Linked DNA regions of Homo sapiens: regions 1 and 3 are each linked to region 2. The links come from fine-mapping of genetic effects on gene expression. A gene starts in region 2. Each other region holds a variant in brackets. All regions are shown on one strand. Distances are between the middles of the regions.

Region 1 (8,175 bases), 42 kb before region 2:
GAGTGCAGTGGCACAATCTTGGCTCACTTTGCCTCCCGGGTTCAAATGATTCTCCTGCCTCAGCCTCCTGAGTAGCTGGGATTACAGGCGCCCGCCACCACGCCCAGCTAATTATTGTATTTTTAGTAGAGATGGGGTTTCATCATTGTTGGCCAGGCTAGTCTCAAACTCCTGATCTCATGTGATCCACCTGCCTCGGCCTCCCAAAGTGCTGGGATTACAGACGTGAGCCACCATGCTTGGCCAGTTCTTTTTCTTTTGAGACAGAATGCCACTTTATCACTGAGGCTGGAGTGCAATGGCGTGATCTTGGCCCACTGTAGCCTGGACCTCCTGGGCTCAAGCGATCCTCCCGCCTCAGCCTCTGGAGTAGCTGGTACTATGGATGTGTGCCACCTGTAGTCTCATCTAATTTTCTGTATTTTTTGTAGAGATAGGGTTTCACCATGTTGCCCAGGCTGATCTTGAACTCCTGGGCTCAAGCAATCCACCTGCCTCAGCCTTCCCAAATGTTGGGATTATAGGTGTGAGCCACTGCATCTGGCCAAAAGGTAGTTCTGTTTTTAGTTCTTTGAGAAATCTCCATACTCTTTTCCGTAGAGGTTGTCATTTAATCACTTACTTTTTATTGAGTGTCTTCCATGGTCTGGGCCTAGTAAGGGGGATAGACATGAATGAGGCATACTCGGAGCCTCCAGCAGCTTACAGGCCTGCAGAGGGTCATGTGAGCAGATAGTGGGGCAAGAGAGGAGGTGCCAGGTACACTTGGTCTCAAAGGTGCATTAGGGAACCATTGATTGGGTCAGGGTCCCAGATAGGATGGCTTAGGGAAGCGTGCAGGGGGAAAGCATGTCTGGCTGAGAATCAACTTAAGCAAAGGAAACGAAGAGGAAAACAGGAAGCCACCATCTTTGCAGCTGGAAGCAAAGCAGGACAGGAAAGCAAAGAGCCTTGAGTGCCAAGCCAAGGAGCCTGAGTCGTGTGCAGGGATGGCTGTGGAGTCTTTGCTGGTTGTAAGCAAGGAGTATGGGGGCTGTCCTCCGTGGGTGCAGCCAAGAAACACAGTAGACTGTGTGTTCCCGAGGCCTAAGATTCAAGGGGCTCCAGGAGAAGGAAGATATCCCATTGCCTCAAGTATGGCCAAGCTCAAGGGGCCTGGGTGAGGAACTCCATAAAAGAGATCCAGGGTCAATAACCTCTGGAAATAGGCAGAATGTCCTCTGCCCTCTGGGCAATGCTAGAGTGTCCTCCCAACTCCTCTTTCCACTCCTCCCCCTCCCAAAGTACATCAGAAGCCTCATCCCCTTACATCCCCAGGGACCCGTGGTAATTCAAATTCTTGGGAATAGTAGGACCCAGATTCCAAGAACAGGAACGGTTTGGTAATCCATAACCTCACGGTTAGTAGTTCCTTAAAAAGGAAAAGAAAAAAATTTTTGAGTGCCTGGCACCATTCTGGGTGCTTCCACCCTATGATCTCACATCACCAAGACAGCCATCTGTTGAACTGAGGCCCAAGAGACCAGTGACTGGCCCAGGGTTGCACAGCATGTGTGGGTAGAGAGCTGGGGCATGAACCCTGGCTTCTGGGGCTCTAGGAAGGGCTGGGTCTTCTGGGGAGGGAAGGAAGCTAGAGGAAGAACGGAGAGAGACTGAGAAGCTGAGGCAGGGAGCAGGGAGGAAGGGGAGGGAGGAGAAGAGAGGAAGGGAAAGAGAAGCAAAATAGCAAGATCAAAGGAGGGAGCAGAGAGAAGGGAGAAACAGGACAAGAGGTGAGGAGGCAGCACGAACCTCAGGCGAAAAAGAGGAGAGCAGGGCGAAGGCAGATGGAGGAGGAGGAGGACAGAGGAGGGACAACGAGGAGGTTTTGGGGAGACAGGGACAGTGGCTGGCTGGAGGTGATGGGACCCCAGAGGAACACATTCCCAGCTTCTCCCTCCTGCAGCAGAGCAAAAGAGGGGCAGAGAAGGTCCCTGACTTGCAGGAGGTCAGCAGGTGCATCGTGCTGGAATGTGGCTCCATTTCATTCTGGTCAGCAGGAAATTGGTTTGAAACCAAAAATCTTGGACGCTCTAGGGACTGAAAAACAAAAACATCATTTTTAATTATTTTATTTTTTGAATAGATAACATGTGCACATGGTACAAAATTCAAAAGGTACAAAAAAGGTAAACAACTGCCCAGTTCCCCTTCCACAGACTAGCCCACTTGTTACCTGATCTTGTGTTTTGGTCTAGAAATCATCTACACAGCGTGTAGCAGATATATTTTTAAAAATTTTACACAGAGGGGGCCGGGCGTGGTGGCTCACGCCTGTAATCCCAGCATTTTGGGAGGCCAAGGGGGGTGGATCACGAGGTCAGGAGATTGAGACCATCCTGGCTAACACGGTGAAACCCCATCTCTACTAAAAAAAAAATACAAAAAATTAGCCGGGCGTGGTGGCGGGCGCCTGTAGTCCCAGCTACTCGGGAGGCTGAGGCAGGAGAATGGTGTGAACCCGGGAGGCGGAGCTTGCAGTGAGCCGAGATCGTGCCACTGCACTCCAGCCTGGGCGTTAGAGCGAGACTCCGTCTCAAAAAAAAAAAAGGAAAGAAAAAAATTTTTTACACAGAGGGGGGCACATTAAACATATTGTAGTTCCCTTGTTTTTTTTCCCCAATATACATGTCACACCCATGTAGCACTGTCTTGTCCTTCTGAGTTTTTTCCATTTATAGTTTTTGTGGGTACATAGTAGGTGTGTTTATTTATGGGGTACATGAGATATTTTGATACAGGCATAAATTGTGTAATAATCACATCAGTAAATGGGGTATCCACCACCTCAAGCATTTTTCATTTCCTTGTGTTACCAACATTCCAATTATATTCTTTTAGTTATTTTTAAATACACTATAAATTAGTGTTGACTGTAGTGTCTTTTTAATGGCCGTATAGTATTCCACTATTTGGATTTACCAGGATATTTTTAAGTCATGAGAGACATCGTTCATTTAGAAGAGTAAATACAATATTTATGTGCAGTTTAAAGAATAATTATAAAGCAGCCGGGTGCAGTGGCTCATGCCTGTAATGCCATCACTTTGGGAGGCCGAGGCAGGCAGATCACCAAGTCAGGAGATTGAGACCATCCTGGCTAACACGGTGAAACCCCGTCTCTACTAAAAATACAAAAAAAAAAATTAGCCAGGCATGGTGGCACGGTCTGTAGTCCCAACTACTCGGGAGGCTAAGGTAGGAGAATGGTGTGAACCCGGGAGGCAGAGCTTGCAGTGAGCCGAGAT[C/T]GCGCCACTGCACTCCAGCCTGGGCGACAGAGCAAGACTCCGTCTCCAAAAAAAAAAAAAAAAGATAATTATAAAGCTGACATCTATGTAACCACCATCCAGGTAAAGAAATAAAAAAGTTGCCAGAAAGGCCGGGCGCGGTGGCTCACGCCTGTAATCCCAGCACTTTGGGAGGCTGAGGTGGGCAGATCACGAGGTCAGGCGATCGAGACCATCCTGGCTAACACGGTGAAACCCCATCTGTACTAAAAATACAAAAAAAAATTAGCCGGGCGTGGTGGCGGGTGCCTGTAGTCCCAGCTACTTGGGAGGCTGAGGCAGGAGAATGACGTGAACCTGGGAGGAAGAGATTGCAGTGAGCCGAGATCGCGCCACTGCACTCCAGCCTGGGTGACAGGGCAAGACTCCATCTCAAAAAAAAAAACAAAACAAAACAACAAAAAAACATTGCCAGAACCCCAGAAGAATCCCCAAATGTCCCCTACTTCCCTCTAGAAATAACACTGTCCTAACTTTTTCAGTAATTTTCTACTTGCTTTTCTTTTATTTTTTATTTATTTATTTTTTTTCCGACGGAGTCTCACCCTGTCGCCCAGGCTGGAGTGCGATGGCATGATCTTGGCTCACTGCAACCTCTGCCTCCCAGATTGAAGTGATTCTCCTGCCTCACCCTCCCGTGTAGCTGGGATTACAGCCGTGTGCCACCACACCCGGCTAATTGTTTGTATCTTTAGTAGAGACAGGGTTTCACCATGTTGGCCAGGCTGGTCTCAAACTCCTGACCTCATTATTTGCCCGCCTCAGCCTCCCAAAGTTCTGGAATTACAGGCATGAGCCAACGCACAGGCCTCTTGCTTTTTCTCTTGCTTTCCCTTATAGTTCAGTTTTTATTTTAACAGGTTTTAATCTTTATATTAAAAAAATCATAGTGTAAATATCCTTTTGGGTCTTTCTTCTTTTCCCCACCATGTTATTCTGTGTCGCTATGGTCCATTTTCATTGCTGGATAGTATTCCAGTGTTATTTATTTACTTATCTTTTTGAGATGGAGTCTCGCTTTGTCACCCAGGCTGGAGTGCAGTGGCATGATCTCGGCTCACTGCAACCTCCGCTTCCTGGGTTCAAGCAATTATCCTGCCTCAGCCTCTCCAGTAGCTGGGATTACAGACATGGGCAACCACTCCCAGCTAATTTTTGTATTTTTGGTAGAGACAGGGTTTCACCATGTTGGCCAGGCTGGTCTCAAACTCCTGATCTCCAGTGATCCCCCTGCCTTGGCCTCCCAAAGTGCTGGGAATACAGGCGTGAGCCACCGCACCCAGCATTCCATTGTTATTTAACCAGTCTCTCATCAGTATATATGTATTTTTGAGACAGGGTCTCATTCTGCACACACAGCTGGAGTGTAGTGGTTCTATCATGGCTCACTGCAGCCTCGACCTCCTGGGCTCAGGCGATCCTCCCACCTCAGCCCCCCAAGTAGCTTTAACCACTTATTGATGGACATTTGTTTCGAGTCTTTTGCTATTACAAATAATACAGCAATCAATAACATATGCTAAATTACATATATGCAGGAGGGAGGATGTCTAGGAGAGATTCCCAAAAGTTGAATTACCAGGTCAAAGGACAGTGCATTTTTCATTTTTTAATTTTTATGTATGTATTTATGTATTTTATTTTATTTTATTTTATTGAGATGGAGTCTTGCCCTGTCACCCAGGCTGGAGTGCAGTGGAGCAATCTTGGCTCACTGCAGCCTCCACCTTCTGGGTTCAAGCAATTCTCCTGCCTCAGCCTCCTGAGTAGCTGGGATTACGGGTGCACGCCACCATGCCCAGCTAATGTTTTTTGTATTTTTAGTAGAGACAGGAGTTTTGCCATGTTGCCAAGGCTGGGTCTCAAACCCCTGGGCTCAAGCGATCCACCCACCTTGGCCTCCCAAAGTGCTGGGATTACAGGCATGAGCCACCACTCCTGGCCTGTATTTATTTTTTAGAGATAGAGTCTCCCTCTGCTGCCCAGGGTGGTCTCGAACTCCTGCCCTCCAGCCATCCTCCTGCCTTGGCCTCCCAAAGTGCTGAGATTACACGTGTGAGCCACTATGCCCTCTGTGCATTGTTAATTTTGAGACAGATGATGGATAGACAGACAGGGCGGGTGCAGTGGCTCACGCCTGTAATCCCAACACTTTGAGAGGCCAAAGTGGGAGAATCACTTGAACCCAGGAGTTTGAGACCAGCCTGGGCAACATAGGGAGACCCCATCTCTAAAAAAATTTTCAAAATTAGCTTGGTGGGGTGGTGGTGGTGGTGGTGTGTGCCTGTGGTGCCAGCTACTCAGGAGGCTGAAATGGGAGGATTGGTTGAGCCCTGGAGGATGAGGGTGCAGTGAACCATGATCACGCCACTGCACTGCAGCCTGGGTGACAGAACAAGACCCTGTCTTAAAAAAAAAAATAAGACTGGAAACAGATATTATCACATTGCCCTTAACAAAAGTTGTATCAGCCAGGCATGATAGCTCACGCCTGTAATCCCAGCACTCCCAGAGGCGAGTGGATCTCCTGAGGTCAGGAGTTTGAGACCAGCCTGGCCAACATGGTGAAACCCCGTCTCCACTAAAAATACAAAATTTAGCTGGGTGTGGTGGTGCACACCTGTAGTCCCAGCTACTCAGGAGGCTGAGGCAGGAGAATCACTTGAACCTGGGAGGCAGAGGTTGCAGTGAGCCAAGATGGCACCACTACACTCCAACCTGGGTGACAAGAGTGAAACTCCATCTCAAAAATAAATAAATAAATAATAATAAAAATAAAAGTTATACCTATTCATTATCCTACCAGTCCTGCTAGACAGTGCAGCTTCCCAGCCTACTAGACAAGTGGGAGACCCTGCAGGGGCTGGGCCTTGCAGAGTGACAGGGAGGCTGGGCAGGCCTAGGGTAGTGTGGCCCTTTGCCCCTGCTGGCTGGGTTGATGATAGGGGCAGGCCGGGTGCTAATGCAATCACAAAGCAGGCGGGCAACAGGAAACTTGAGGGGGTGTCCTCAAAGCTGAGTCCACAGAGGGGAGCACGACCCCTGACCTCATAGATCTCTCAGCCTTGGCCCAAACGAGCTAGAAAATGAGGAAATGTCCCCCCACCCACTTTCCTAGCAACCTGTCCCCATAGGGTGTGACAAGGCATGTGAGAACACACAGGCCTCAGACCAAGAGCTGGGAAAGTTGACCAAAAAGAGCTGAGCCTGTGGACAGAAATGGCAGTCTTGCAACTTCCTCTCATGGTTGAGACACTGGGAGAGGCTCCCTGGGCCCCAGCCAGGGTCAACTGGGCCCCTCCGAGCTCCCCAAGTTTTGTTGACAGCACTGGGCTGGCTCTTCAGTGCATTAAGGCCTTCAACAATGATTGACTCGGGGCCTCTGCATGCCAGGCAGCCCAAACAGGCAGGGCCCTTCATCCCCGCCCTCATGGGCCTGCTCTTCAGCAGGGCAAGACCCACGATGAACTCATGATAGCGAGTGTTCATTGCATGTTGGAAGGTGACACTCGCCATAGGAACAAGGGCATGCAGCTGGATAAGGGGCTTGCGGTAGGGGATGGAGTGGGCGGGGACAGTTTGCAGCATTCACGAGAGCAGGCAGGGCAGGCTTCACCAAGAGAGGTGCATCCGGCAAACCCTGGAAGCAAGTGAGGGAGCGAGCCAAGCAGATGTCTGGGAGAAGAATTCCGGGCAGAGGGACTAGTCAGTGCCAATGCCCCAGGCAGGAGCGTGAGCCAGAGATGGCAAGGAGGCCTATGGGGGCACAGCCAGTGGCAGAAGCTCAGACAGGGCCAGTCAGGTCAGGCCATGGTATGGAATTTGGCTTTGACTCCAGGAAACATGGAGTGTGTCGCAGGGTGTGTCCTCTCTTATTCAAACCTGAAGCTGGTGCCGTGGTACACATGAGGAGACTGAGGCTCAGAAGTGGCCGTGAGTCGGCACAGCGTGGCTTGGTCAATCCGGGGTGTAGGTGAGGCTTTCGCCCAGATCCACCTGAGACCTAGACCCCAGCTCTGCACCATGGCAGTGCTCCAGTGCTTGTGGGTGGTGACAGGCAAGCACTGGAGGGTGCCCGTGCTGGGCACTAACTCACCCCTCCCTCACGTAACCGTACGAGGCAGGCCTTGTCAGTGCCATTCTGCAGATGACGGAAGTGCAGTTCCCGGAGGTAAGGGGCACGGCCAAGGGCACACAGCCGGGAGCAGGGCAGGAGGTGATTGTGGTTCTCAGGGCCCCTCAGGCCTGTGCCTCCGTGGCTGTCCCTATCTCGAGGTTCTCTCATGGATATTTCCCCACCTAAAAGTCTTCCTGAGCTCTTGCCTGTCCTCAAGCTGAAGCCCAAACCTCCGAGGCCTGTGCGGGAACCTCCAACGCCCGGAGTCCGGCCAGCCTTTCTGCCCGTCCCCAGCCCAAGTGGCCAGCCCCACCTCCACCTCCAGCCAGAGGACACCGCTCAGCATTCCTGGAACCTTTCTCAGTCTCCCCAGCTTTTGCGCACAAGCCCACCCACTTCCACACCCTCAGATCTCTCTCTTTCAAGGGCTTGCCTCCTCCAGGCTGCCACCCAAGACCGCCTTCCCTCTAGTTTCCCCCCACCGCTCCCCAGCTCTGCCTCAGTCTCTTGTCCCACTCTGCCCCAGCCCCAGTGGCCAGGGGCAGCTAGACCTCCTCTGAATCCCAAATCCTGGCCAGCCTCCCACACCCTTGTCCCTGCTGACCAGCTCTACAGATGGGGCGCTCACCTCCCGGCCACATCACTCAGGCTTCGGCACCTCAAACCCACCGCCACCCACAGCGACTTCCTTCTGCTCACCACGGGCAGCACCACACCCCCCTGCTCGCTCAC
Region 2 (8,146 bases):
GAATGGCATGAACCCGGGACGCGGAGCTCGTAGTGAGCCAAGATCACGCCACTGCACACCAGCCAGCCTGAGCGGCAGAGCAAGACTCCGTCACAAAAAAAAAAAAAAGAGGACACAGAACACTCATCCCCACCCAGGCTGGCTATGGACTCTCCAGGAACGGGAGTATATGGCAGAAAAGACACCGGGCCAGGGGCTGGGAGCAGTGGCTCATGCCTGTAATCCCAGCACTTTGGGAGGCCAAGGCACGCGGATCACCTGAGGTTGGGAGTTCGAGACCAGCCTGACCAACATGGAGAAACCCCGTCTCTACTAAAAATACTCCGCTAAAATTAGCCAGGCTTGGTGTCGCATGCCTGTAATCCCAGCTACTCGAGAGGCTGAGGCAGAATTGCTTGAACCCGGGAGGCAGAGGTTGCGGTGAGCCGAGATCGTGCCATTGCACTCCAGCATGGGCAGTAAAAGCAAAACTCCATCTCGGAAAAAAAAAAAAAAAGGACACTGGGCCAAGAACCAGGAGCCTGGGCTCCAGTCCTGGCTCTGGTCTCTCTGTGATCCTGGGCAAGGCATTTAAACTCTCTGGGCTTCAGTCTCCTCACCTGTCACATGGCACCCCTCCCTTCCTCCCTAGGTTGCTATGAGGATGAAAGACACATTAGGGAGATGAGCTGCATCAATGGCGTGGAGAAACTAAAAGGCTGACAAGGCTGCTGGCAGCTGCCGTGCCTCCCTCACCTCCTGGATCTGCTTGTCCAAACCCCCAATGTCACTGTATTGCTCCGTGGGCCTCTCGTCTACCTCCATGGCCTTCACCCGCGAGTCATACTCTGTGGGCAGCGTCTCCAGGATCAGATAGGAGTCTTTGTTCACACCCTAAGGACACAGCACAGGGCCTTCAGATTTGGCCCAGCTCAAGGGCTACCCAACTGACTGGGTGACAGGTGTCTGCAGAGGGAAAGACACAGGACTGGGCAATACAAGAATCAAACAGCAAGTAGACAGAATCCCAGACTCTCGGAGCTGTTCTGCCAAGATTCAGAGCCAACAGTGACCTGGGGCGGGTACAGGGGCTCAGCTAGTCACCAGAAAAGCACTGCCTGGGCTCAGGCCCCACTCACCACCAGGTCTCCTGGCTTTAGCTTTTCAGCATCCACCAACCCAATCACAGGAAGGAAGTACGTCTGTGGACAAGTTACAGGGGCAGTCTCAGTTAGTGTCCTCAGGGAAGGCTCCCTAGTCCTGTCCCACATCCGCTCCTCACCCTCCTCCAGTCTCTCATTGCTGAGCCACGCTCACCTGTCGTGTAGAGGTTTTGATCACAGCACACTTGCCCTTCCTCTGGGAGTCCAGGTCAATATTGGCACCATCCTCCTCTTGGTCATTAGGATCAACATCCAGGAGCTGGGAAGGAAAAAATACTCAGCTCCTTGAACTCCCCAAGGCCCAGTGCTTCCTAAGACAGTTCCTAATACCTGCAGGGCTGGCCATCCTTACCTCCCTCCTCCAATAGCCCTGAGCCCACCAAACGTGGGTGCCCCTGCTAAGCCCAGGGATTGATCTCTGTGTAGGTGCTGCTCCTCTGCACAGGGCTCATCTACCCCGGAGGAGACATAACCAACAGAAAAGGAGACACGTGAGACCTCCCAGGACTTTGCAGGCCCCGTCTTCCCCATGAAAGTGCCCCAGGAGGTGTAGCTCTGACATGCAGTTTGGCCTCAATACCTCCACCCACTCTTTCCCTAGTGGCCCCACCCCAGGCTGTCCCCATTCCCTGCTGACTCCCTCTCTTCCCCTCCACATACACACACACCTCGATGACGTTGGAGACAAGGTACGGCAGGGTCTTGTTCACTTTGATTTTCTCACTGTTCTCTTTTATCTTGTCCTTCATGGCTTGGAGCTCATGGGTGACTCTCAACACTTCACTCTTCATGATCTGAGATCAGGAGGGGAGGAGAAGCAAATATAAACCCTGGCACAGCTTATGCTAGAGCCCTGTAACTAGTGAGGTCCAGGGTGCCCAGGGGACCCTCCCGCATCCATTCATCCAGCTCTGAGGCTCTCTGAAGGCAGAGTCTGACTGTGTCCACATCCTGCAGAAGTCAAAAGAGGAGGCCAGTTTGGAAACCTCCTGGTGAAATAGTGGTAGTATTGGAATAAAAGCAGGCCTCCGAGAGAGGCAAACATAGGTTTTAGGTTCTGCCTCATAGTAAGAACTGGGTGCTTTATCGCAGTACAAACCTCTCTGGGCCTGTCTCCTCATCTGTAAAATAGGCATTTTACTAAAAGAAGGATTCTTGAGAGGATTATTCCCAGTTCTCACTGGGAAAGGCAATCTGATAACTTCTCATCTCAGCCCAGGCCTCCCACCACCCCCTACCTGTCTTCTTGTCCCTTTTAAGGCTTAGTTTTCTTTCCTCTCTTCCTGATATGAGGGGGAAGCCCGAGCCCCATGTCTCCCCCAGGGTGCCCGATTAGGAAGTACGAGAGGCGACTCGGATCGCCGGGGCCTGTCCTGTGGGGGCTCCATCGCCCGCACAGGAGCTGTGCGCCCACCTTGATCTCACTGTCCAGCAGCCGTGTGCGCTGGATGATCTCCTCCGTGGACATCTTGAGCACCTCCTCCCCAATTCCATCTTGCTGTAAAAAATTATTTGTTTATTTATATATTTACTTTTACTCAGGACAAGCATCCCTCGTTCTCCGAACCCACTCACAGCCTCAGTTTCCACGCCCATAAAACCAGGATGGAGTCAGGACCCCTGCCCACATCCCAAACAACCCCGTCCCCGGGATCGGGCCAGACCTTGACCCCCAGCCACCTCCTTCCCTCTTGTCAATGGCGTCTCCCTGCGGGCCCCGGTTCCCGGACCGCCAGCTCGCCCGGTGCCCACCTCGGCCTCATCCCACACGGTCGCCATCTTCTCCTGCCGAGTCACTGGACTCTCAATATTCGGCAGCAGATTCATTTCCTGGAGGAGCGGGCAGAAGATGGGACCAGGCGGGAGCCGCAACGGGAGATTAATACCGTCTTTCTTAAAGCCTTCTCTTGACCAGTGGAAAACCTCTCCCCACAAATCCCGACTCTTGACCCGACCAGCTCCGGCCGTGCTGCGGAGCAGCGAATCTGCCTCTCCGATTCCAAAGACCAACCCCTGGCCACAGGCCCCGCCCCCGCGGACCCCGAAACGTTCCCGCCCGCGTCCTATTTTTGCCGGGCGCGAGAGGTGGGGCCGCTATTGGCCGACACGCGCGTTGGGGGCGGGGCCTATGTGTAAAACCGGAAAGGGAGGGAGAAGGGTGGGATCCGCGAGGGCCTTTGGGAAATGTAGTCTTTAATCTGGCCCGTGACAGATGCTTGCGGAGGGGCGCGTTCAAACTCAGACCGTGACCCCGCTAGGAATAAGGGGATTTACACAATGACACTGCCTCCCAATTAATAAACGACATAGGCCAGCCGTGTGCAAAGGGCCAAAAAGGCATGCCACCTCAGTCCGCATTTTTACAATTATTTAAGTACAAGCTGGCCACCCGGAGTTACGGGAGGGAATCATTAACCAGCTTTAAAGAGAAATCGCTGCTGCTCCTAACGTCAGAGCAGGCTTCACGGAATTGTCCACGTGGGAAGAACTCAATTGACCATCAGCCTCTACGATTAAAAACATTATGACTCGGGCCGGGCGCGGTGGCTCACGCCTGTAATCCCAGCACTTTGGGAGGCCGAGGCGGGCGGATCACGAGGTCAGGAGATCGAGACCATCCTGGCTAACACGGTGAAACCCCGTCTCTACTAAATATACAAAAAATTAGCCGGGCGTGGTGGTGGGCGCCCGTAGTCCCAGCTACTCCGGGCTGAGCCAGGAGAATGGCATGAACCTCGGAGGCGGAGCTTGCAGTGAGCCGTGATCGCGCCACTGCACTCCAGCCTGGGCGACAGAGCGAGACTCCGTCTCAAAAAAAATTATGTCTCGTATCTGCAATTGTTTGTTTTCTCTGACCATGGTTAGTAATCTCAGTGAGCAGAGCGGGTCTCCGGATCATGGGAGACTCATTCGTTGTACCCTTGTCGGCTATTTTAAATGATCTCTCCTTATCCTTTGAGGTGAGCCCTGGAGCCCCTTTAAAGGGAACTTCATGTAAGCAACATAGCTTATATTTCAAGTCAAACCATCACAAACACTCTGTTAACCTGATGAAAATCTGTGCAATCGTTGCCTTTTTTTTGTTTGCTTGTTTGTTTTTTGTTTTTTGAGACGGAGTCTCGCTCTGTCGCCCAGGCTGGAATGCAGTGGCGCGGTCTCTCCCTACCGCAACCTCCGCCTCCCGGGTTCAATGGATTCTCCTGCCTCAGCCTCTCAAGTAGCTGGGATTACAGGCACCCACCACCACGCCCAACTAATTTTTGTATTTTTAGTAGAGACAAGGTTTCACCATGTTGACCAGGCTGGTCTCAAACTCCTGGGCGTAAGTGATCTTCCTGCCTCAGCCTCCTAAAGTGTTGGTACTATAGGCATGAACCACTACACCTAGCCTTTGCAGTAGTTTTTTTTGGAACACGGTTGAAAGCAGAATTTTTTTCTTTAAATAACAACATGTACAGCTGCTCACTCAGGCTGACAAAGCGTCTCCTCAAGTAACAGTGCTTTATTCCATTCTCTCAACAAGCCTGCCTTGTGGACAGACTGAATTACCATTCTCAAATTTAAATAAGCATAGGGAGGCTCAGAGAGGTTAAGTGCCTTGCTGGAGGTTATTCAGTGAGTCACTGGCAGCACTAGGACTGCTGACCCCAAATTCTCACTTTGAGTTGCCCGATAGGAGCCAAGAAGCCCAGAGGGGAAAGACTGTCCAATCTGTGCTGGTCCCACTATGCCTGGGTCAGTTGGGTCCCATTCTGGGGCCTACTTTTGGAGATCCTGACAAATACGAATATGTTTAGAAAGCCTCCAGCCTGGGCCTAGGAGGGATGCAGACATTCTCCCCTTAACCAACTTTTAGGTAGGCTCTTCTGAGCCATCTTTTTTTTTTTTTTTTTTTTTTTGAGACGGAGTTTCGCTCTGTCGCCCAGGCTGGAGTGCAGTGGCGGGATCTCGGCTCACTGCAAGCTCCGCCTCCCGGGTTCACGCCATTCTCCTGCCTCAGCCTCCCAAGTAGCTGGGACTACAGGCGCCCGCCACTACGCCCGGCTAATTTTTTGTATTTTTAGTAGAGACGGGGTTTCACCGTTTTAGCCGGGATGGCCTCGATCTCCTGACCTCGTGATCCGCCCGCCTCGGCCTCCCAAAGTGCTGGGACTACAGGCATGAGCCACCGCGCCCGGCCTGAGCCATCTTTTTTTGACTAGGCCTTGTGGGCTGTTCCTTCATCCCTGTCATCAACCTGTCTAACCCTGTTTTCACAAAAATCCTGCTAGTCAGTTTAACGGAATCCCCCCACCCCTGATACCTCATCCCTCTAGATATATGATCCAGGTCCTCATTTATCCTTCACCTTTGAAGTATAAGCCCTTGGCCTGCTTTTTTTTTTTTTTTTTTTTTTTTTGAGACGAAGTCTTGCTCTGTCGCCCAGGCTTGAGTTCAGTGGTGCGATCTTGGCTCACTGCAACCTCCGCCTCCTGTGTTCAAGCAATTCTCCTGTCTCAGCCTCCTGAGTAGCTGGGATTACAGACACCCACCACCAAGCCCAGCTAATTTTTGTATTTTAGTAGAGACGGGGTGTCACCATGTTGGCCAGGATGGTCTCGACCGCCTCATGATCCTCTCGCCTCCACCTCCCAAAGTGCTGGGATTAGAGGCGTGAGCCACTGCACCCGGCCCTGAACATCTCCTTCTTTAATCCTGGCTAGAATGACAGGGATTGATTATCTTGGGAGCCCAGGAGTAGGAATGTCTTGGGGAGATGGGAGAAAAAGGAGAATAGTTTATGAAGGTTCACTCTGCTCAAAAAGGTCAAGGAAGTACCAGGAGGTCAGTCCCAGCAAGGAGCTGGGAACCTGGAGCAGAGCATGTCTTCAGGGAGAAAGAGGTTGGCTGAATTAGGGACCTCTGGTCCATCTGGGCCTCTAGAGAGAAGAGGTCTAGGCCAGGCCTAGAACAGATGTTTCTGTCTTGGCATCAAGCTAGGGTGAGAGCCACCAGGCCAAAACCCTGGAGTCATTCTTTGTTTTTGTTTGTTTGTTTTGAGACAGAGTCTCAGTCTGTCACCCAGGCTGGAGTGCAGTGGTGATTCTCCCACCTCAGCCTCCTGAGTAGCTGGGACTACAGATGCACACCACCACACCCAGCTAATTTTTGTGTTTTTGGTTTTTTTTTTCTGAGACAGAGTTTCACTCTTGTTGTCCAGGCTGGAGTGCAGTGGCACGATCTGGGCTCACTGCAACCTCCACCTCCTGGGTTCAAGCAATTCTCCTGCCTCAGCCTCCCGAGTAGCTGGGATTACAGGCATGCACCACCATGCCTGGCTAATTTTGTATTTTTAGTAGAGGTGGGGTTTCTCCATGTTGGTCAGGCTGGTCTTGAACTCCTAACCTCAGGTGATCCACCCGTCTTGGCCTCCCAAAGTGCTGGGATTACTTTACCTTAAACAAATATCCAGAATTCAGAAATAGTAAGATCTGAATCAAAACAATCAAGCGGAGGGTGTGGAGCTTGGTGGGGCTTTTGGGGGTAAACAAGATTGTCCATGTGCTGAAATGCATAGTTAAGGCTGAGATGGAAATCATTGGTTTCTCTCCTTTTGTATCTATTTGAAAATTTCCAAAACGAAAGATATAACTCCTCCTAACCCCCTTGAATAGGACCATTTCTCACTCCCTCCATTGCCTATCACCCTGGTTCAAGCCACCATCATCTCAGACCTAGCTTATTATTATTATTTGGCATTGCTGTTGCATTTGAGATGGAGTCTTGCTCTGTTGCCCAGGCTGGAGTGTGGTGGTACTATCTTGGCTCACTGCAACCTCTGCCTCCGAGGTTCAAGCAATTCTCTTCCCTCAGCCTCCCAAGTAGCTGAGATTACAGGTGTACACCACCATGCCTGGCTAATTTTTATATTTTTAGTAGAGATGGGGTTTCACCATGTTGGCCAGGCTGGTCTCGAACTCCTGACCTCAAGCGGTCTGCCCGCCTCCATCTCCCAAAGTGCTGGGATTATAGGCATGAGCCACCGCTACCCCTAGATTATTATGGGGACCTTTCCACTGGTCTCCTGGATTCTACCCTAACCCTCCTGTGATGATTAATTTTGACTGGGCCATGGGATGCCCAGGTGTTTGGTTCAACATTATTCTGGGTCTTTTTGTCAGGCTGTTTTTAGACAAGATTGACATTTAAATCAGGAGACTGAGGAAAGCAGGTTGCCCTCTCTAATGTGGGCGGGCCTCATCCTGTCAGTTGCAGGCGTTGAACAGAAAGGCTGACTCCGAGGGAGTTCTTCCTGCCAGATTCCCTTCTGACAGGCATAAAGGTCTTTTCTGCCTTTGGAGTTGAACTGAAACATTATTCTTCACAGGGCTTGAGCCTGACAGCCTTCAGAGGAGAACTACCCCATCGGCTCTCCTGGTTCTCAGACCTTCTGAATCAGGCTGGAACAAAACCATCAAGTCTCCTCGGTCTCCAGAACTCACCCTGCAGATCTAGGGACTTGCCAGACTCCATAATCACATGAGCCAAGTCCTTATACTACATCTCTTTATATAGCAGGTTGGTGCAGAAGTAATTGCAGTTTTTGCCATTAAAAGTACAAGCAGCCAGGCGCGGTGGCTCACGCCTGTAATCCCAGCACTTTGGGAGGCCGAGGCCGGTAGATCACCTGAGGTCAGGAATTCGAGACCAGGCTGACCAAGAGTAACCCCGTCTCTACTAAAAATACAAAAAAAATTAGCCGGGCGTTGGTGGTGGGCATCTGTAATCCCAGATACTCAGGACGCTGAGGCAGGGGAATTGCTTGAACCTGGGAGGTGGAGGTTGCAATGAGCTGAGATCGCACTATTGCACTCCAGCCTGTGCGACTAGACCAAGACTCCATCTCAAAACAAACAAACAAAAAAACACAAAAAACAAAAGTACAAGCAAAAAGATCCTATTGGTTCTGTTTCTCTGGACAATGCTTCCTAAAATCTACTATTTTGAAAAACCCTTTATTTTGA
Region 3 (8,175 bases), 69 kb before region 2:
TTTCCACCAAACTCTAACTCCTGTTCAGGCGCTCTGTGTCATTGGTCCTCATGTTCCCAGGGTCCAGCATTGGGTACAGTCCTCGGTAAACACCCGATGGACAAATGACAAAAAGAGACGTCGCAGCACACAGGGGCCAAAAGAGATACACAACAAATTTTAAAAGAGACTCTGTGCTGCAAGAGGATGGATTGAGAATAACTTTACTTGTTTTTTGGGAGGAGGTTAATGGGTGGGAGGGGTGAGAGGGGAGATCTGATTTACATACGGACTTGAGACTCCCAAGGCAGTACCCCGGGTCGTCCTCTGCAAGGTTGCCCCGGTGGGGTCTGACGCCCAGCTGGCGTCCGGGAGCCGGGGTGGAGTCCTGGAGGGAGGCGAAGCGGGATGTGGAGGGGGCCTGGAGTGGGGGGAGGGGGCGGGTGAGGCGAGGCCCGGCCCGCCACAGTCCTGCCTCTGGGCCCCGGGAGCGTCCTCCCTGTGTCCGGGCCGGGCGAGGGCTTAATGCTATGGCCAGCGGGGAGGCCTGGCGGGGCCCGGCGGGGGCTGCGGGCTCAGTGGGGCGGGTGGCGCCGCTCGGCCAGGCCCCCGCGGCCCAGCACTTCGCCGCTGAACTGGTAGGTGAGCTTCTTCTTCACCTTCTTGACCTCGCCCGTCTTGCCGTAGTTGCGCAGCGCGCGCGCCATCTTCTGGTAGGTCATCTTCTTGCGGTTGCCCTTCTGGATGCCCCAGCGGTGCGCCAGCGCCTCCTTGTGCTTGGACGAGAACTGGAAGGTGCCCTTGTCCTTGTCCACCCACCAGATGCTGTCCTTCATGTCGCCGCTGCGGAGCAGGTCCAACAGGAACTGGTACAGGCGGATCTTCTTCTTGCTGCCTGCGGGGGGGAGGGCCCGGTGGGAGGGGGCCCGGGGCCCACATGGGAGCCGCCCCCACCGCCTTGCGTACGCACAGGGGCCCGGGGACGGGGTGGCCGGGAAGGGCAGGGGAACGGCTGCCCCAGCCCGCGCCGGGCGTGCATACACAACGCACCCACACTCACACACACACACATGCTTGCGCACACACAGGCGTTCACACACACCCACTCACACCCACGCACTCACCCCCCCCACGCGCACACACTCGCACCCACACAGTGCACCAAGTACACACACATGCTCACATCCACATAACGCACCCACACCTCCTTACACATGCTCACACATCACGCCCACACCCACTCACACACGTGCTCACACAACGCACCTTCTCACACCCACTCACACTCATGCTTAAACACAATGCAACCACTCACTCATGCTCACACCCACACACGCTCACACGTACAATGTATCTGATCACACACATGCTGTCACACACATGCACACACAATGCACGTGCTCACAGACTCACACCCACATGCTCACACACATGCTTGTGCAATGCACCCAAACGCCAGATTGCACCCACACCCACCCACTTGCACATTCACACCCACATCTGCCCTCACACACTGTCACTTTCTCACACACCCACACAATGCACCAGCTCACACTCACACACATGCTCACACACTCATTCACTAACATGCCCCCACACACTGGCACCCACACGACACACCCACTCACATGCTTGCACCCACCCACATGTTCAAACCCACACTGCATCTGCTTACACATTCACAACCCACTCACACACACCTGGTCACACCCACTCATGCTCACACCTCATTCACACCCACTCACATGCACACTCACACCCACCCAATGCACCCACTCACACACATGCACACACACTCAGACCCACTTACTGCCCCCACACACGGTCACACCCAATGCACCTTCTCACACTCATATGCCCACTCACACCTGCTCACACACACCTCACACCAGGTTCACACACTCATGTTCACACACCTGCTCATACACCTCACACCAGGTCTCATAATCACACCTGCTTATACTTGCTTACACATGCTTGCACAAACACACCTGCTTACACATCTTACACTGCTCACCCTCACACCTTACATTGCTCACCCTTGCACACACATGCCCCTGCTCACACACACATGCTTACACCACACCATTCACTCACACATATCCACTCACATATGATCGCACCTACCCACACCTCACACACACTTGCACGCACACACCTGCTTACACACATCTCACGTTACTCAGCCCCACACGCACACACCTGCTCACACACATCTCACATTACTCAGCTACACACACACGCCCCTGCTCACACACTTGTGCTCACACACCTCACACCATTCACTCACGCACACACCCACTCACACATGCTCACGTCTGCTCACACACATGCTCACCTATCCATACACACACTTCCTCACACACCTCACACCAAGTCTCACACACACTTATGCTTACAAACTCATGCTCACACACATGCTAACACTTCACACATGCTAACACCTCACACATTCACACCCACTCACATGCTCACACCTCACACATGCTCACACCTCATACCTCACACACATGCTCACATCTCACACCCACTCACACACACCTGCCCACACATATCTGCACACACACATGCTCACACATATGCTCACACATCACACATACCTGCTCACATACATGCTCACACCTCACAGCTGCTCACTTATCACTCACACGCTCACACCAGCTCTTTCACACCTCATTGACACCTGCTCACTCATATTTCACACCACTTACACTTGCACCTCACACCTGCTCACGCATGCACATACATTCTGCTCATGCATATCCACTTGCATGCTTACACGCCTGTTCACACACAACCACTCAGACACCTACTTGCACACTCAAATGCTCACACACATTCTGCTCTCACATCCACTCACAGCAGCTCACACTCATGCATGCTCACACACACCTGCTCTCACACTCACACATCACACCCATTCTCTTGTTTTTGAGATGGAGTTGCTCTTGTTGCCCAGGCTGGAGTGCAATGGCACGATCTCGGCTCACTGCAACCTCCACCTCCCGGGTTCAAGCAATTCTCCTGTCTCAGCCTTCCAAGTAGCTGGGATTACAGGCGTTCACCACCACGCCTGACTAATTTTTGTATTTTTAGTGGAGACGGGGTTTCGCCATGTTGGCCAGGCTGGTCTCGAACACCTGACCTCAGGTGATCCGCCTGCCTCAGCCTCCCAAAGTGCTGGGATACAGGCGTGAGCCACCACGCCCGGCCCACTCACACCCATTCATGCTCACACACTCATTCACACACCTGCTTTCACACATACACATACCTGTTCACACACATGCACACCTGCTCACACACGCAGGTGCTTAAGCACGTCCTCACCCCCCACACACACCTGCTCACACATGGGAACACACACATGCTTACACATGTTAAAACACATATCCACTCACATACATGCACAGACCTGCTCACATATACACATACATGCTCACACACCCCAGCTCACACCTTCCTGCTCACACACACCTGCTTACATACACCCTCAAACATGTTCACACCCACTCACACATCCACTGACACACACCTATGCCCATTCACACACACTTATATCACACACATCCCTGCTTACATACACATTCACACATATACACTTGCTCACACACCTGCTGTCACACCCCCACTCACACATATCACTCACACATGCCTGCTTACAGCCACTCACATATACCATGCTCACATCCCTGCTCACACAGGCACACCCACACACTGCTGACACCCACTGACATCATACGTGCACAGCTGCTCACACGCACTGAAATACATTCATGTGTTGACAGACACACAAACATGGCCACACCCACTCTCAGCCACACCAGCTCTCACATTCACCTTCTCACACACCCACTCACACAGCCACTCGCACACATGCACCTGCCCGTACCTGTGCACACGCACCCTCTGCACACTTGCTCACACACACCCAGATGTACACACACTCATGGCACAGAGAGACACACACACCTGGCACACTTCATGGAGATGCCCGTATGCACTACACAGCAGATACACACACACAGAGACAGCCACAGACAGCCCCACAAAACACACACACTGGCAAACATGCACACACACACACACGCGACTCGGTGGCGTGGCTGCTGGGTCAGTTGGCCTGGCTGGGTGGGGGCAGGGCACAGACACGGCCAGGGTCGGGGCCAGGGTGGAGGGCCAGGTGCCCCACCTGTCTCCCCAGGCAGGAGCCCAGGCCCGGGCTCCAGGCCATCCGCCTCGCCGTCAGACACCTCCAGTGGGGGGCTCTGCCGCTCGCCCTCCTCCTCATCTGAGCTGGGCTGGGCTGGGGACAGGGATGGGTACTGGAGGCACATCCGGGGCAGGTAGGAGACCTGGACGGTGGGGGAAGGAGATCAGAGTCAGGAAG[G/A]GCCAGCTTACAGCTCAGGGGGGCTGGGAGGGAGGTCAGCTGGGGAGAGAAGGAGTGCAGAGGGCAGGGGACAATGGCAGGCACAGGAGACTGGAGGAAGAAGACCAGGGAAAAGGGGGGCCAGTTGAGGTGCTGCACATAGGGTGCAGGCTGTGGGGCGAGGGGTGCTGACATCCAGCCCACCCAGCCCTCCCAGCTGGGCCTCCTGGTTTAGGACTGTGGGCACCGGGGAAGTGGTGCCTTGTTCTCCTCCCTGCAGCGGTGCTGTGTGGACCCGCATTAGGCTGGGGTCAGAAGAGGGCATGCTAGGGACCGGTGCGTTGGGTCTGGAAGGGGGTTTCATAGGTGGGATGATGAGTGAGTGGAGGGACCCTGGAGGTCAGTAGGGGTGGTAGAGGTCAGCAGAGGTCACTGATCCGGGTTAGGGTCAGTAGGGAGGGTCACTGGGGAGAGGCAGGGTCAGTAGAGGTGTTCAGTGACTTGGTGTGGGATCCATGAGGGCTAGTGAATGGGGGTGGCAGACAGTGAGGCCCAGGAGGGCCCACAACAAGGCGTTGGGATGGGGAGGCTTGGTGAGGGTGCGAGAATTATCTGGGGTCTGTCCATACTCGGGGTGAGATGAGATAAGGGGTGTGGGGTCATGAGGTCACTTGGGGGGTCAGGCGGCAGCCGTTGGAGCTCCAGCCGCCGTTGGCACTGTGGGGCAGGAAGCTGAGTTGGGTAAGAGCCTGTGTCAGCTTCCTGTGAAGCTCCCGGGCCCCACCACAGGCCTGGCAGTCTCCTGGGGGACGGGGCAGGCGGTGGCATGCACCTGGTGGCCAAGACTGGGATGGGGTGGCACCATGGGGGTATCGAGGACGTGCATCTGCTCCAGCTCCATGTGGCGGTAGAGCTGCTGCAGCTGCGGGGGCTGCACGCTCTGGAGCTCCGTGAAGTTGTTCTCGGCGAAGCTCTCGAACTCGCTGTGCACGTGGTGGGGGTGGAAGTCCCAGTAATGGTCTGTGGGGGACAGCCAGGCAGTATGGGGTGAGCTCAGGGTTGGGCAGGGCAGGAAAAGGTTATAGTAACATTAAATAATACTGCCAGGCCATATGGGGCCTAACCATCTCGTTTAACCCTCGCCACCTGCATGGTTACTCTAGGCCTGCATTTTATAGATGAGGACACTGAGGCTTCGAGCGGCTACATAGCATGCCCAAGGTCAAAAGCATCCGGGTCACAGCCAGGACTCAGGGCTGAAGCAAAGCTCGTGTTCTCAGCAATTCCATCCTGATTCCTGTGCAGTCACACAGACCGAGCGTCTAATCCTGGCTCTGCCATTTACTTGCTGTGTGACCTCAGGCACATATGTGGCCTCTCTAACCTCAGTTGAGTTGCCTGTAAAATGGGGATCACAGTTATTGGGAAGATACGAATGAGTACACATTTGTAAAACACCTCGCACCAGAGCCGGCCCTCAGGGAAAGTTGATTCCCCTCCTATCCTGTTAAAACCTCCCAGCCAGGGCCGCGCGCGGTGGCTCACGCCTGTAAACCCAGCATTTTGGGAGGCGGAGGCGGGCGGATCATGAGGTCAGGAGATTGAGACCATCCTGGCCAACGTGGTGAAATCCCATCTCTACTAAAATACAAAATATTAGCTGGGCGTGGTGGTAGGTGCCGTAATCCCAGCTACTCAGGAGGCTGAGGCAGGAGAATCGCTTGAACCCGAGAGGTGGAGGTAGCAGTGAGCCGAGATTGCGCCACTGCACTCCAGCCTGGCGACAGAGTGAGACTCTGCCTCAAAAAAAAAAAAACTCGGCCGGGCGCAGTGGCTCACGCCTGTAATCCCAGCACTTTGGGAGGCCGAGGTGGGTGGATAACGAGGTCAGGAGATCAAGACCATCCTGGCTAACACAGTGAAACCCCGTCTCTAGTAAAATACAAAAAAATTAGCTGGGCGTGGTGGCGGGTGCCTGTAGTCCCAGCTACTCAGGAGGCTGAGGCAGGAGAATGGTGTGAACCCAGGAGGCGGAGGCTGCAGTGAGCCGAGATTGCGCCACTGCACTCCAGCCTGGGCGACGGAGCGAGACTCCGTCTCAAAAAGAAAAAAAAAGAAAAAAGAAAAGAAAAAAACCTCCCACGGGTTCCTGAGCTCCCTGGCTGCCCACAGTCTCTCTCTCTGTCTCACACACACACACTCACACAGCCTTGTCACATGGCCAAGGTGTGACAGCAGAGTCACAGGGCTGACATTCCTCACACACTAGAACTTGTCCAGGCACACGGTGGCCCTTCCTCTTCAAAGCCATGACCTTAAGCAGTGGCACCTGTGTTCCCGTGAGGTTCCTGGGACCTGAGACTTTCCTGGAAAACCCCCTGTGGGTTCCTTGAGTCTGTGGTGGAGGAGACTGAAGTCCGGGGAATAACCCCATGCCACCAAAAGCCCTGTCTTGGAACTGGGGAAGATCTTCAGCATGAACACCTTTTCCAGGAACAAAAACTGCCACACATCTGCGGGACTTCCTGGGCGCAATTCGGGGTCCAAAATGAAGCGTGGTAATAAAGTGACAAGATCGGCTGTCTCATGTGGGCCAAAGAGGGCGCCTACGAGACTCCAGGTCCAGGCAGTGTCTCTGGGACAAGTCCACCACCAGCCATGCGTGCGTGTGTACGTGTGTACAAAGGTGTACACATGTCTGCCTGCATCTCTCTTTCTCTCTCACACAAACACCTAATCACACATCCCTAATAGATAATCATGATTTTTGGTTCTGGACTGGATCTCGGAGTACTCGCTTTCTAAACCTGCTTTGCAGTATGACCATGGACAAGACATTTTTTTCTCCCGGAGCCTCTCATTCCCCACTCTAAAAGTCAGAAATGCTTTTAGACCTGGGTAGTTACTGAGGCCTTGTCTACATGTATAATTATTTGGCCTCACAGTCCAGACAACCCAGACTCCCACCTTTAGGAAGCCACATGGCAGAGAGGAGAGAAAGGCAGAGCTGGGCTCAAGTTCTGGCTCTGCCATTTACCACTGTGTGACAATGGGCAGGTCATTCTATTTCTCCAAGCCTGTGTCCTCATCTGTTAAATGGGGCTAACAATTACACCCATCTCACAGGCTTGTTTTGAGAAGCAAATGACCTATTGCTTGCAAAGTGCTTAGACTAGAACTTGGCACAAAGACAGACCTTGATAAACATTAACTTCATCATTATCATTATTATTAATAATAATAATAGTTTATTCTAAAGAGCCTAGATTCCCACTGAGTGTGGTTACACCTATAATCCCAGCTACCCAGGAGGCTGGAGAGGGAGGATCACTTCAGCCCAGGAGTTTGAGACCGGCCTGGGCAACATAGTGAGACCCTATCTCTACAAAAAATGTTTAAAAATTTGCCAGACATGGTGGCACACACTTCTAGTCCCAGCTACTTGGGAGGCTGATACGAAAAGATCGTTTGAACCCAGGAGTTTGAGGCTGCAGTGAGCTATGATTACATCACTGCCTCCAGCCTGGGTGACAGAGTGAGACCCTGTCTCTTTTTTTTTTTTTTTTTTTTTCTCTGAGATGAAGTCTCACTCTTGCCCAAGCTGGAGTGCAGTGGCACGATATCGGCTCACTGCAACCTCCACCTCCCGGGTTCAAGTGATTCTCCTGCCTCAGCCTCCCAAGTAGCTGGTAATACAGGCATGTACCACCATGCCCAGCTAATTTTTGTATTTTTAGTAGAGATGGGGTTTCACTATATTGGCCAGGCTGGTCTTGATCTCCTGACCTCGTGATCTGCCCACCTCAGCCTCCCAAAGTGCTGGGATT

Alleles and levels. Positions count from the first base shown, and alleles are read on the strand shown. Sizes are in standard deviations (SD) of each study's normalised expression. Not every link is listed here.
With allele A in place of G in region 3, the expression in cerebellum of the gene that starts at base 3,129 in region 2 is higher (small effect, 0.34 SD a copy in GTEx).

What was found. PIP is the estimated chance that this variant, and not a neighbour inherited with it, causes the effect.
Region 1: its variant is fine-mapped to the expression of PSMC3 in lung (TOPMed, PIP 0.99).
Region 3: its variant is fine-mapped to the expression of PSMC3 in cerebellum (GTEx, PIP 0.97).

The regions. Positions count from the first base shown.
Region 1 is chr11:47,381,754-47,389,928 of GRCh38, forward strand. SLC39A13-AS1 (SLC39A13 antisense RNA 1) reads right to left here. Exons shown (of 4, transcript NR_182308.1): 4 at 1-2,079. Among named protein-coding and RNA genes, the nearest start is that of SPI1, 7.3 kb to the left of the region's middle. The variant C/T (reference allele first, on the strand shown) is at 3,288.
Region 2 is chr11:47,423,311-47,431,456 of GRCh38, forward strand. It overlaps PSMC3 (proteasome 26S subunit, ATPase 3), which reads right to left and starts at 3,129. Exons shown (of 12, transcript NM_002804.5): 1 at 2,895-3,129; 2 at 2,557-2,640; 3 at 1,811-1,936; 4 at 1,297-1,401; 5 at 1,119-1,181; 6 at 736-873. The coding sequence starts at 2,969. RefSeq lists silencers at 2,756-2,967, 3,238-3,367 and an enhancer at 2,938-3,137.
Region 3 is chr11:47,354,673-47,362,847 of GRCh38, forward strand. It overlaps SPI1 (Spi-1 proto-oncogene), which reads right to left. Exons shown (of 5, transcript NM_003120.3): 3 at 5,181-5,368; 4 at 4,172-4,334; 5 at 188-874. The coding sequence ends at 555. Among named protein-coding and RNA genes, the nearest start is that of MYBPC3, 6.1 kb to the left of the region's middle. The variant G/A (reference allele first, on the strand shown) is at 4,370.